2 separate regions of the Homo sapiens genome follow, and region 2 is linked to region 1. Evidence: fine-mapped expression QTL. A gene starts in region 1. The other region holds a variant in brackets. All regions are shown on one strand. Distances are between the middles of the regions.

Evidence for each region. PIP is the estimated chance that this variant, and not a neighbour inherited with it, causes the effect.
Region 2: its variant is the best candidate, but not a certain one, in a credible set for the expression of LAMTOR3 in esophagus muscle (GTEx, PIP 0.70).

Annotation. Positions count from the first base shown.
Region 1 is chr4:99,891,502-99,896,884 of GRCh38, forward strand. LAMTOR3 (late endosomal/lysosomal adaptor, MAPK and MTOR activator 3) reads right to left here and starts at 2,926. Exons shown (of 7, transcript NM_021970.4): 1 at 2,834-2,926; 2 at 2,454-2,499; 3 at 499-533. The coding sequence starts at 2,462. DNAJB14 (DnaJ heat shock protein family (Hsp40) member B14) reads right to left here. Exons shown (of 8, transcript NM_001031723.4): 8 at 4,747-5,383. RefSeq lists a silencer at 3,025-3,114.
Region 2 is chr4:99,846,829-99,852,211 of GRCh38, forward strand. The region is part of intron 3 of DAPP1 (dual adaptor of phosphotyrosine and 3-phosphoinositides 1); the gene reads left to right. Among named protein-coding and RNA genes, the nearest start is that of DAPP1, 33 kb to the left of the region's middle. The variant C/T (reference allele first, on the strand shown) is at 2,469.

The DNA.
Region 1 (5,383 bases):
TTCAAAGTATGTTGATGGTTGGTCACTGTGCATCTGTTATGCAGCTCATGCAGAGATAGCAAAGCATGTAGTTTTGTACCTCCTTGTCTCCCAATGATAAAGTATGTGACATTTAGAAAAAGAGATAATAAAAAGAGGAAACTGGCCAACAAAGACGAAATACAGCAAAGAAATGAAAAGTAATAATGCTGAAATTTCAAATAGAAATGCTGAATTTCAAATAGAAAGTAAAGAATTATAGAAGAAACAGATGACCAAGGGAATGCTGACACTATCGCTCTAGATACACAGAGAACTCAGTGAAGGCAAACTTATTGACATAAATGAGGAAAGCGGTTGTGACGAAAATTTTCCAGAGGACGTGAGGCTGGCAAAAAATATTCATATTAAAGGAAATCTCAGAGATACTTCACAACATGGAAAATACAGACAAAATGCTTCATAAAATTAACATATGGCATATAGAATTTATTCAATAACAAATTAAAAATTTCTTACCTTGGTAACTTTTTATACAAGAATCGCTTTAGGTCCTGAAAGAGAGCATTAAAAAATAATGTTGTAATAATAGGCCTTCCACTGTTTTCTAGATCCTGTCCTATCCAAATTTTAAGGAACTTCAGTTATCATTCATAACCTTTCTTGCTGTGTTTTATCTTTCTCTGTCTGATTTGGATGTTTACTAGTCACGCAACTTGGAGTAAGTTAACCAACCTTTTTTCGCTAAGCTTATTTCATTATTTGTTGAATAGGGCTAATATAGAACCTACATCATAAAAGTGTTGTTAAAAGTTTATTGAGAAGATGCATGGATTAGCATACCTAGAAATGGGAAACACATTTTAGCCATAAAATTACATCATAATTTTCATACTAGTGTTTTACATCCTGTTGCTATTGTGTTCACTTGAGAAGACGTTATAAACACCTTTCCATGTTCAAAGATAGACTTTCCACCATCATCTTAATGGTCTTGGGTAAGGTGATATGACCTCTGTAAGACTGTTGTCTCACGTGACTATCACATTATAAAAATATGCCTTCCATTGTTTCATTATTTGTTGAACTCACCTACTCAACAAATAATGAAACAGTGTAAGGCATATTATTATAACGTAATTTTTAAAATATTTTGTTTAAGGACCTAAAATAAATTCTATATGACTATGTGAGGCAACATTTTTTTTTTTTTTTGAGACGGAGTTTCGCTCTTGTTGTCCAGGCTGGAGTGCAATGGCGCGATCTCGGCTCACTGCGACCTCTGCCTCCCAGGTTCAAACGATTCTCCTGCCTCAACCTCCCGAGTAGCTGGGATTACAAGCACCTGCCACCATGCCCAGCTAATTTTTTGTATTTTTAGAAAAGACAACGTTTTACCATGTTGGCCAGGCTGGTCTCGAACTCCTGACCTCAGGTGATCCACCCGCCTTGGCCTCCCAAAGTGCTGGGATTACAGACGTGAGCCACCGCGCCCAGCCCAGTGTTACAGAATATAAAATAAATGACAATGTGTGTCAAGTGTTTAACACGAAACACAGTTAAGACTAAAGAAGTAGAAGACTATTTTATTTTTCTAAGCTGGGGCTCACTGCAACTTCCAACTTCTGGGCTCAAGCAATCGTCTCGCCTCACTTCCAGCATAGCTGTGACTACAGAGGTATCAATGCGCCTGGCTGATTTTTAAATTTCTTTTTGTAGAACGGGGTCTTGCTATGTTGCCCAGGCTGATCTTGAACTCCCGGCCTCAAGTGATCCTTCCATCTCGGCCTCCCAAAGTGCTGAGATTACAGACTAAGCAACCGCATTGGCCAGAAGACTATCTTATTTTGTCTCATTACACTCTCTTATCCCAGGAATTTCACTGACAATTTAGGTATCAATTTTGACCTCACATGGATTAATCAGGTATCTCTTGTTTTGAGCATCCAGCACTTACTATTCTCCAAACCCGACTGATCATTTTATCCTCCTACACACACACACACACACGTTACCATGTTTCTAAAGAGGCATGGGTTAGAAATCATCGTAAATTGCTACAATAAACCAAATGAGATATTGTTATCACTTACTGGAAAAAAGTATTGTGGGTACATGTCCTACTGACCAAATTCTGACAGGAAAAGCAGCAAACCATCATTCAGAATTTCAAATGGTAAATATACAGAGCCTCTCTTATGCCCCAGCTGGACTGGGGAGTAGGGAGAACCTAATTTTCTCAGTCTCAAGCACCTTAGTGTCCTACACCCCCATTCGAGGCAGAAACTCAGGATCCTGCAAATTCATTCATATTAGTCTCCCACTTCAGATATCAGAGAAAATAATTAACTGGGATGGGTGGGGCTGGGAGGATCAAAACAAATTTCTGTTTGGGAAGTTCTACCTCTCCCCGCTCAGTATGCCCCTCAAAATTCCCCACTCTCCCCTTCCTCTTATGTAGGGGTGTCACTCACATCCGCCATGATGAACCCCCTTCTCTCGCAGGATCAATCTCCACGCCTGGAAGAGAAACTCCCGGTGACTCTTCCCTCTTTGGCTTCCTCGTCCTCCCCACCCACAACTTAATACGCGAGATCAGCCCTGGTCAGAACCAGGTAAAACCCCCGCGGTTCTAGGGCTTGGCCCAGCGAGCCCAGTGGGAGTCGGAGTGCCCCAGCACCCCCACAGGTACTCAGCTGGCACACCTTACCTCAGCCCACCCCATCCCTGCCCCTCCACCCCAAAGAGCTAGGCCCAAAGAAAAGAAGAGAGGGTCCTCTCCTTCTGTTTAATCTCACCACCCGCGCCACCTGCGGGACTAGGCCTCAAAACCAGGCAAAGTAGCGCCAGTTACCTGGGGTTTCTGGGCTGCCTGGTTCTCTCCGCTGTCACTTCAGGGACAGCTTTAAAGACAGGTTCCTCCTCAAGCCACCGTCACATGATTCATGACCTCGTCTGCGCTCCAGGAAGCACTTTCTAAGCCGCCGTCGCCCTACGATACGGGATTTCCGGAGGGGCCCGGCGGAAGCTGCGAGGGCGCGTCCGGCGGCCGCGCCCCTCCCCTCCCCCCCGCCCCGCACGCGCCCCGCCCCTCCCCCGCCCACCGCGGGCCGCGTCTTGCGCCTGCGCCTTGTGTCACGGGCCGAAGGAAGTCAGCTGTGGGGTAGATTTGTACGAGATCGCTGGACCCTAAGGAACCCAGAAAATGCAAGCAAGGTTATGTGTTACAAGACATTCTTGTGCAGAGAGGGTGTATAAATGTCATTAGTTTTGCAGGGTCTGTTATCTTAAAACCTTTTCTTGTAGATGAAGAAATTTGAGGGGATGGTGTGATGAGCTGAAGAGCAAGCACCAGATTGCCTGTGATTGGAAGTACCAGGTCCACAGGTTTCTGACCTGTTTCCTAGGCTCTTGTGACTTCCCCATGGGTGCTCTTTACTGAAGGCCTTACCTAGATTGAATGGGGAGGAGCCATGGGTTTTCTGGAGCACTTCAAGCGTCTACTTTTAACATGCAGACACTGATTACGGGCACCTTCTATGTTCCCTTTTACATCAGAATTTTTAAAAATTAGTAAGGTCTCATGTAATAAATAATAATTGAAAAAAATAAAAGGCTTTCCGGGTGCGGTGGCTGACGCCTGTAGTCGCAGCACTTTGGGAGTCCGAGGCGGGACGATCCTTTGAGCCCAGGAGTTCCACAGCAGCCTGGCAAGATAGGACCCCATCTCTACAAATAATAATAATAATTAAGAATTATCCGAACGTGGCGTGCACCAGGTACTCGGGAGGCTGAGGCAGGAGGATCCCTTGAGCCCAGGGTTTGAGGCTGCATCGAGTGGTGATCGCCCCACTGAACTCCAGCTTGTGTGACAGAGCGAGACCCTCAAAAGAAAAGCTTCTTTAGAAATCGCATCCTCTTTCAGCTACCACACTGTTTTTCCTCTACTCCCTTTCATAGCCAAATTTTCAGAAAACTTTAGCCTGGTTTTCAATTGCTGCTTCCATATGTCACAAATCTAATCAGAGTTCTGTTGATTCTACCTCCTATCTTTGAAAACTATTCACCTATCTATATTCCTACCCTACTCCAAGCCATGATCATCTCTCTTTTGACAACAACCTCCTATTCTTCTTACATTCTCTTTTGCCCTCCAGTCTCCACACAGCAACAAAAATGATGTTCTAAAGACCCAAATCACATCATTTAACTCCTTCCTTGAAAATCAAGTTTATTGACTTAGGATAAAGTTCAATATCAGCATCATGGTTTATATATCATTCTTATGGGGATCTGGCCCCTATCTTAATTCTCTCACCTACCCTGGATTCCTTATGCTATGATCATACAAGTTTGTTTTCACTTCCATAAAGATTTTTATCACTTTACCAACTTAGCACGTTCTGCCTGAGATATTTCTCTAGCATACCTTAATCCTACTAATCTCATCTTTTGCATTTTGGCTTAAACTCACTCTCAGAGAAGCCTTCCCTGACCCTCACTGAATAGTTTAGGTCTTCTAGATAAATGCTTTCATTGTACCCTGTAATTTTCTTTGTAGAATTTATCATAATTATAATTATTTACTTGATATTTATTTTCTTTGCTAGATGTAAACTCTTTAAGGTTTTTGTCTTTCTTATTCAGTGATTAATTCCCAGCACCCAGCTCACTGCCTGGGATATAGCAAGCATTGACATACTTGTTGAATAGTTGAATGAATGAAAGAGTGGCCATATTGAGTATAAAACATGATAAAAACAAACATTTTACAGTGAGAACAGACCTTTTTATTAATATATTGAGATAAACTACAGAGACTGAAAGACAAAAATTCATATTTCATTCAGAACATTCATTAAAAATCAAATGCATTTGAGTTCTCACAGAAAATTTTATGTAAGTCTGATATAACATTAAATATTTTACAAATCAGACATTTCATTTTGAAATCTAATTTTTAATCCTGAATGCATTATAGACAAAGTAAGCTCTCCTTTACCAATTTCATTTAACTTATACAAGGCTTCCATTATAATTCCATCAAACCTTAAAAATTACCTGCAGCTTTTAAAAACACATAAAGTAAATGGAAAGAAAGTCTTATGTAGCAATCCAAAAACTAAAACTAGAAATTGGCAAGAAGCATTTCTTAATACAGATAAACTGCAAAATATCATTTATGTGTGTTTCTTCTCATTGGTTTAATCATCCTATTAAAAATAATTTTTTGAAAGTAATAATTACAATACTCCAATGTCACTGAAAATCTCTATGATTTTAATGGTGTCCTTAAATGGCAAAGTAGAATATCAGACTGAAATGTACAGAGTGTTGTGCTGAAGTGAATGAGACTTGCCATGCCAGGTGTCATCTGCTATGCAGTTACAAGACATCTTGGCAA
Region 2 (5,383 bases), 45 kb before region 1:
GACTGGAAATTAAATATTAAAACCCCTTCACATGTAAATGAACAAGGCTTAAAGTCCATTTGCAGAGCAGGTGGCAAAGAAGGAAGGAAAAAGATCTTGAATAACCCTATTCTCTCCCACCAACCCCAAGAAATCTACTTCTCATTGGAAGGAGGGGAGAGAGGAACTCATTATGCCAGTTGCAGAGCTTATTTTCTGAACCTGAGGGCAGTAATGAAACACGGATGGACATGATCTGATTTTAATTTAATTCAACAAAATGTTTTGAGTGAAATGGCCCTGTGAGCCACTGATAACATAGAAAGATAAATCAGATATTATTCTTGCCTTCAAACACCTTACAGGCTAGCTGGGGTACCTGATGAATAAGCACTGACCTCACTGCATAAAATAAATACTCTAAACAAAAGTTTTTCTTTAGGAGTTTTGTGTACCCTGTGCTACACTCTATTTCAGATACCAAACCAATGCCTAAGAATTGAGACTGTTCTTACTCTCTTTCTGAGTTCCTGCTGGAATACAAGATAAAGGGTCCTTCAATGCAATTTCATATTATTGCATACAGTTATATATGTAACTCTTACACATAACTGTAAGTTACCATTCAGTCAAAGTAAATGGAAATGCCTGCCTTGGTCCAGCTCTGATCATCTCAAAAACATACCTCCGCTAAGCATGGCTGAAACCAGGTTTCATGTCAAAGGCAGGAAACAATAGTCACCTTTACGTAGTTCAGAAACTGAAGTGAAACTTATAGCCAAGTTTCCAAGGCCTGTGGTTACTGGTCTTCCTCATTCTTCTTGCTCTGCTACCCCTGCCTCCTGTTGCCTTTTTCTAAATCTCCCAGCTGAGTCCTGGAGTTCATTTGGTCTGAATCTCAGTAACCCAGGGTCCCTTTCTTCCCGAGCTGAGGCACTAACTTGGACCTTGGAGGCAAAGTATTAAGAGTCTGTGGTAGCGACAGTAGATAAGTTTGTTTGTTTGTTTGTTTGTTTGTTTGTTTTGAGACAGAGTCTCACTCTGTTGCCAGGCTGGAGTACAGTGGCGCCATCTCGGCTCACTGCAACCTCTGACTCCCTGGTTCAAGCGATTCTCCTGTCTCAGCCTCCCGAGTAGCTGGGATTACAGGCATGCGCCACCATGCCCGGCTAATTTTTGTATTTGTAGTAGAGACGGGGTTTCATCATGTTGGCCAGGATGGTCTTGATCTCCTGACCTCATGATCCGCCCCCTCGGCCTCCAAAAGTGCTGGGATTACAGGCATGAGCCACCGCGCCCGGCTGATAAGTTTCTTTTGATTGGAAATGACAGAAACCAGCTCTGGCTAGCTGGGTTTTTTTGGTCTTGTTTTTGATTTTGTTTTTAAGTGAGTAGGGTACAAGAACAGGGAACAGGAGCAGAATTTTTTTTTTTTTTTGTGATGGGGTCTCACTCTGTTGCCCAGGCTGGAGTGCAGTGGCACGATCTCGGCTCACTGCAACCTCCGCCTCCCGGGTTAAAGGGATTCTCCTGCTTCAGCCTCCCAAGTAGCTGGGACTACAGACGCATGCCACCACGCCTGGCTAATTTTTGTATTTTTTTTAGTAAAGACGGGGTTTCACCGTGTTAGCCAGGATGGTCTCCATCTCCTGACCTTGTGATCCGTATGCCTCGGCCTCCCAAAGTGCTGGGATTACAGGCATGGGCCACCGCGCCCTGCCCAGGAGCAGAATTTTTTAAAAGGATATTAACAATATACCCTCCCAGAATTTAAGGGCAAGTTGAACAACCAAGAGACAACAAGGAATCTGCTTAGTAATCATGGCAAGTCTGAGGCTTTCAGTCAATTGATGTGTCTGTCTTGATTCATCTCTGATCGTCTCAGAAGTGTACCTCCGCTCAGCCTTTCTGAAACCAGGTTTCATGTCAAAGGCAGGAAACAATAGTCTACTTCATGTAGTTCAGAAATTGAGTTGGTGGACCTTCTCTCTAGAGAAGCAATTAAGTGGATCCCCAAGAAGTGAATCCAATTAGTGTGACCAGGTCAGGTATTCGAGGGCCGGGCCAGGTCTGGAGGTATAACATGGTTATAGGGAACCTATCTCTGTATACTGGGAGGTACAATCTCTGCAGAAGGGGAAATCATTAAGCCTCACAGCCATGCCAAGAAGTCTGTATATTGGCTCTTCCTTGGGCAAGAATAGTCATCTAAGGAGAACTGTCTTTTAGGACACCAGATTTTTATCAGTATAAGTTGCCGTTTTATAAGTACTTTGTCATCTTCATCTCACAATTTAGTTTAGCCTCATTTGTGGGGTTACTAGTTAAAATCAATCTACAGTCAGTTTTACTCTCTTGGTTGACTCAATGCCATTTTCCTTTGTTTTACTTTTGTTGAATTAAACTTTAGAGGAGGTTTTCAAAATAGAATTTGGGTTCCTCCAACAGAGATTTGAAAAGTTATGCCTGCGGTTATTGTCCTTTCTTGC[C/T]TCAGGCCTGGAGAATTGTGGACCTGGGAGGCTGGTTCATCCCAGGTTCTTTCTTGGTTCAAGCCTGCATTACTGTAGCATTCATTCATTAATTCATTCACTCATCTGCCTTCATTATGTCAGAAACTCTATCAAGTGGTAGGGATACAAAGATAAATTTGACTGATAGGTGCGCTGAAGAGGCTCACAGAGGTTGGAAATGCACACGTTGGAAAGGCAGTGGCTGTCTAATACCAAGAGGTGACAGCACTGCAGGCTCAGGCAGCAGCCCAGCCCAGAGATCCTTACCCTGCAGCGCAACTGGCCCCGGTGGCTATTTCTCCTCCAGGGACTGATACTGTGGTAGGAGGATAATGCCCCCACAGGACGTCCACATGTCTCCCTGGACCTGTGAATATATTGTTACATGGCAAGAGGGAATTAAGTTTGCAGATGGAATTAAGGCAGCTGATCAAATAACTTTGGGGTGGGGAGATTATCCTAGATGGTCTAAGTAAGACCACTGTAATTGACAGGGTCCTCATAAGTAGTAGGGAGCCAGAAGGGAGAGAACCAGAAAGATGGCAGCAGGAGAAGGATCTGACTGGCTGTTACTGGCTTTGAAGACAGAGGAAAATGGCCACAAGTCAAGACATGAGGGCACCTCTGAAAGCTGGAAAATGCAAAGGAATGAATCCTCCCTAGAGCCTCCACTAGGAAAGCAGCCTTGCCAGTTTTAGACTAGTGAGACCCATTTCGAACTTCTGACTTCCAGAATTGTAAGATGATAAATCTGAGTTGTTTTAAGCTGTTATGTTTGTGGCAATTTGCTACAATAGCAATAAAAAATTAGGCCAGGCACAGTGGCTCACGCCTGTAATCCCAACACTTTGGGAGGCCGAGGCGGGTGGATCACCTGAGGTCACGAGTTCGAGACCAGTCTGGCCAACATGACGAAACCCCGTCTCTACTGAAAATACGAAAATTGGCCCGGTGTGGTGGTGGATGCCTGTATTCCCAGCTACTTGGGAGGCAGAGGCAGGAGAATCGCTTGAACCTGGGAGGCAGACGTTGCAGTGAGCTGAGATCGTGACATTGCACTCCAGCCTGGGTGACAGAGCAAGACTCCGCCTCAAAAAAAAAAAATTAACACAGGTATTATTATGTGAAGTGTGTGCCTGGTCGTATCAACTAAGTACATCTTTCTGGAGTGTCATTTAAAGCATTATTTTCATATTAAGTATTAAATATATGAAGTAGAATGAAAATTAAGCATCAACTTTGAAGATAAAGTATAAGAGTTCAAAATGTATCTAATTTGGGAGCTGCTTTGATCCCTAGGCTTCAGTTCCCCTCTCCTCTTCTGTAAGGTGAAAGTGTTTGAGAGGCACCAATTTAACTATAGTTAATCACAAGTAGTGATTACTAGACTACCACCATTTTTATTCCTAGCAGAATGTTGCGTCTAGGTCTTTTTTAAGATTTCAAAATCCATGTCCCCAAAGATGCAATCATTCAAATTTTATTTAAGGATTTAAAAATATTCTGTCAAAGAATAATAATATCTAATATGTTATCATTCTCCCACAAACATTTATTTGGTGCCTTCTGAAGGAAGCATAATTATTCTCACTAGTAAGGAGCAGAAGCTTGTAATGGTTGTCCAAGGCCGATAAGTACTGAATGGCGGTAGTGACAATTGAACCCTGTTCCTCTGCCTGTGCATCCAGTGCTCTTTCCAAGGGTCCAGAGTGACTATGAAGCACATCACTGGGAGTGTTTCTTAGGGTTGGGAGCCAGCGCTGAATTTACCATGCATCTACAATGTGAGCACTGTGTTCACAGAGCCCCTGAGCCTGCACAGCAGCTACTCTTGATATAGGTACTGCTGCTTTCATTCTGACTGTAAAACTGTAGCCGGCCCCTTCTCCTCATATGACTGGATCTGTTCTTATGGGAAGATCACATTGACAAAAGAGAGCACAATGTGCAAGAATGGGACGGTTCTGATAATGGCAAAATCTGTTTTTCATTGTGATCCCAATGCTGCAATGCCAATGAGAGACAGAAAGAGGAAGGGCCAGAGGCTTTCATTCTTCTCTGAGGTCGAGATCAGACACCCTCTTCTGGCTTTTCTCAACAGCTTTTCATTTTACAGCAGCACCTTATCTGGGCCCAAGTATCAAAAGCCACAGTTCTGTTTTTGCAGTCAGACATTGTATGTATTCAAGTATCATAGACAGGTTTTGTTTTGTGTAGTTTTTTTTTTTTTTTTTTTTTTTTGAGACAGAGTCTCACTCTGTCACTCAGGCTGGAGTGCAGTGGTGCGATCTCGGCTCACCGCAACCCCCGCCTCCCGGGTTCAAGCAATTTCCCTGCCTCAGCCTCCCGAGTAGCTGAGACTACAGGTGCCTGCCACCACGCTCGGCTAATTTATTTTTGTTTTTATTTTGTATTTTAGTAGAGATGGGGTTTCACTATGTTGGCCAGGATGCTCTCGATCTCCTGACCTCATGATCCACCCACCTCAGCCTTCCAAAGTGCTGGGATTACAGATGTGAGCCACTGTGCCCGGCCTGTTTTGTGTAGATTTATCATTAACATTAGGGTGTTTTTTAACCACAGAGGAGACATTTTTCTTTTTCATTTTCTCACTCTTACTCTAATTCAGGTTCTATACTCTCCAGATCTTTCAAATCTTTTCAAAGACGCCCTTCCTGATGACCCTTGTAAAATATCACCCTCTCCCAACCCTACCTTTTCTATTCTCTATCCCTTTACCATGCCCTATTCATTTTTTCCATAACACTTCTCACACATAAAATATTTTTTAAATTTTTTTTCTGTCTCCTCTACCTAGAACATAAGCTCGATAAGAGCATTTAAACTCCTTTGTGTGCTATTGCATTCCCAGTACCTAGACAAGTGCCTGGCAG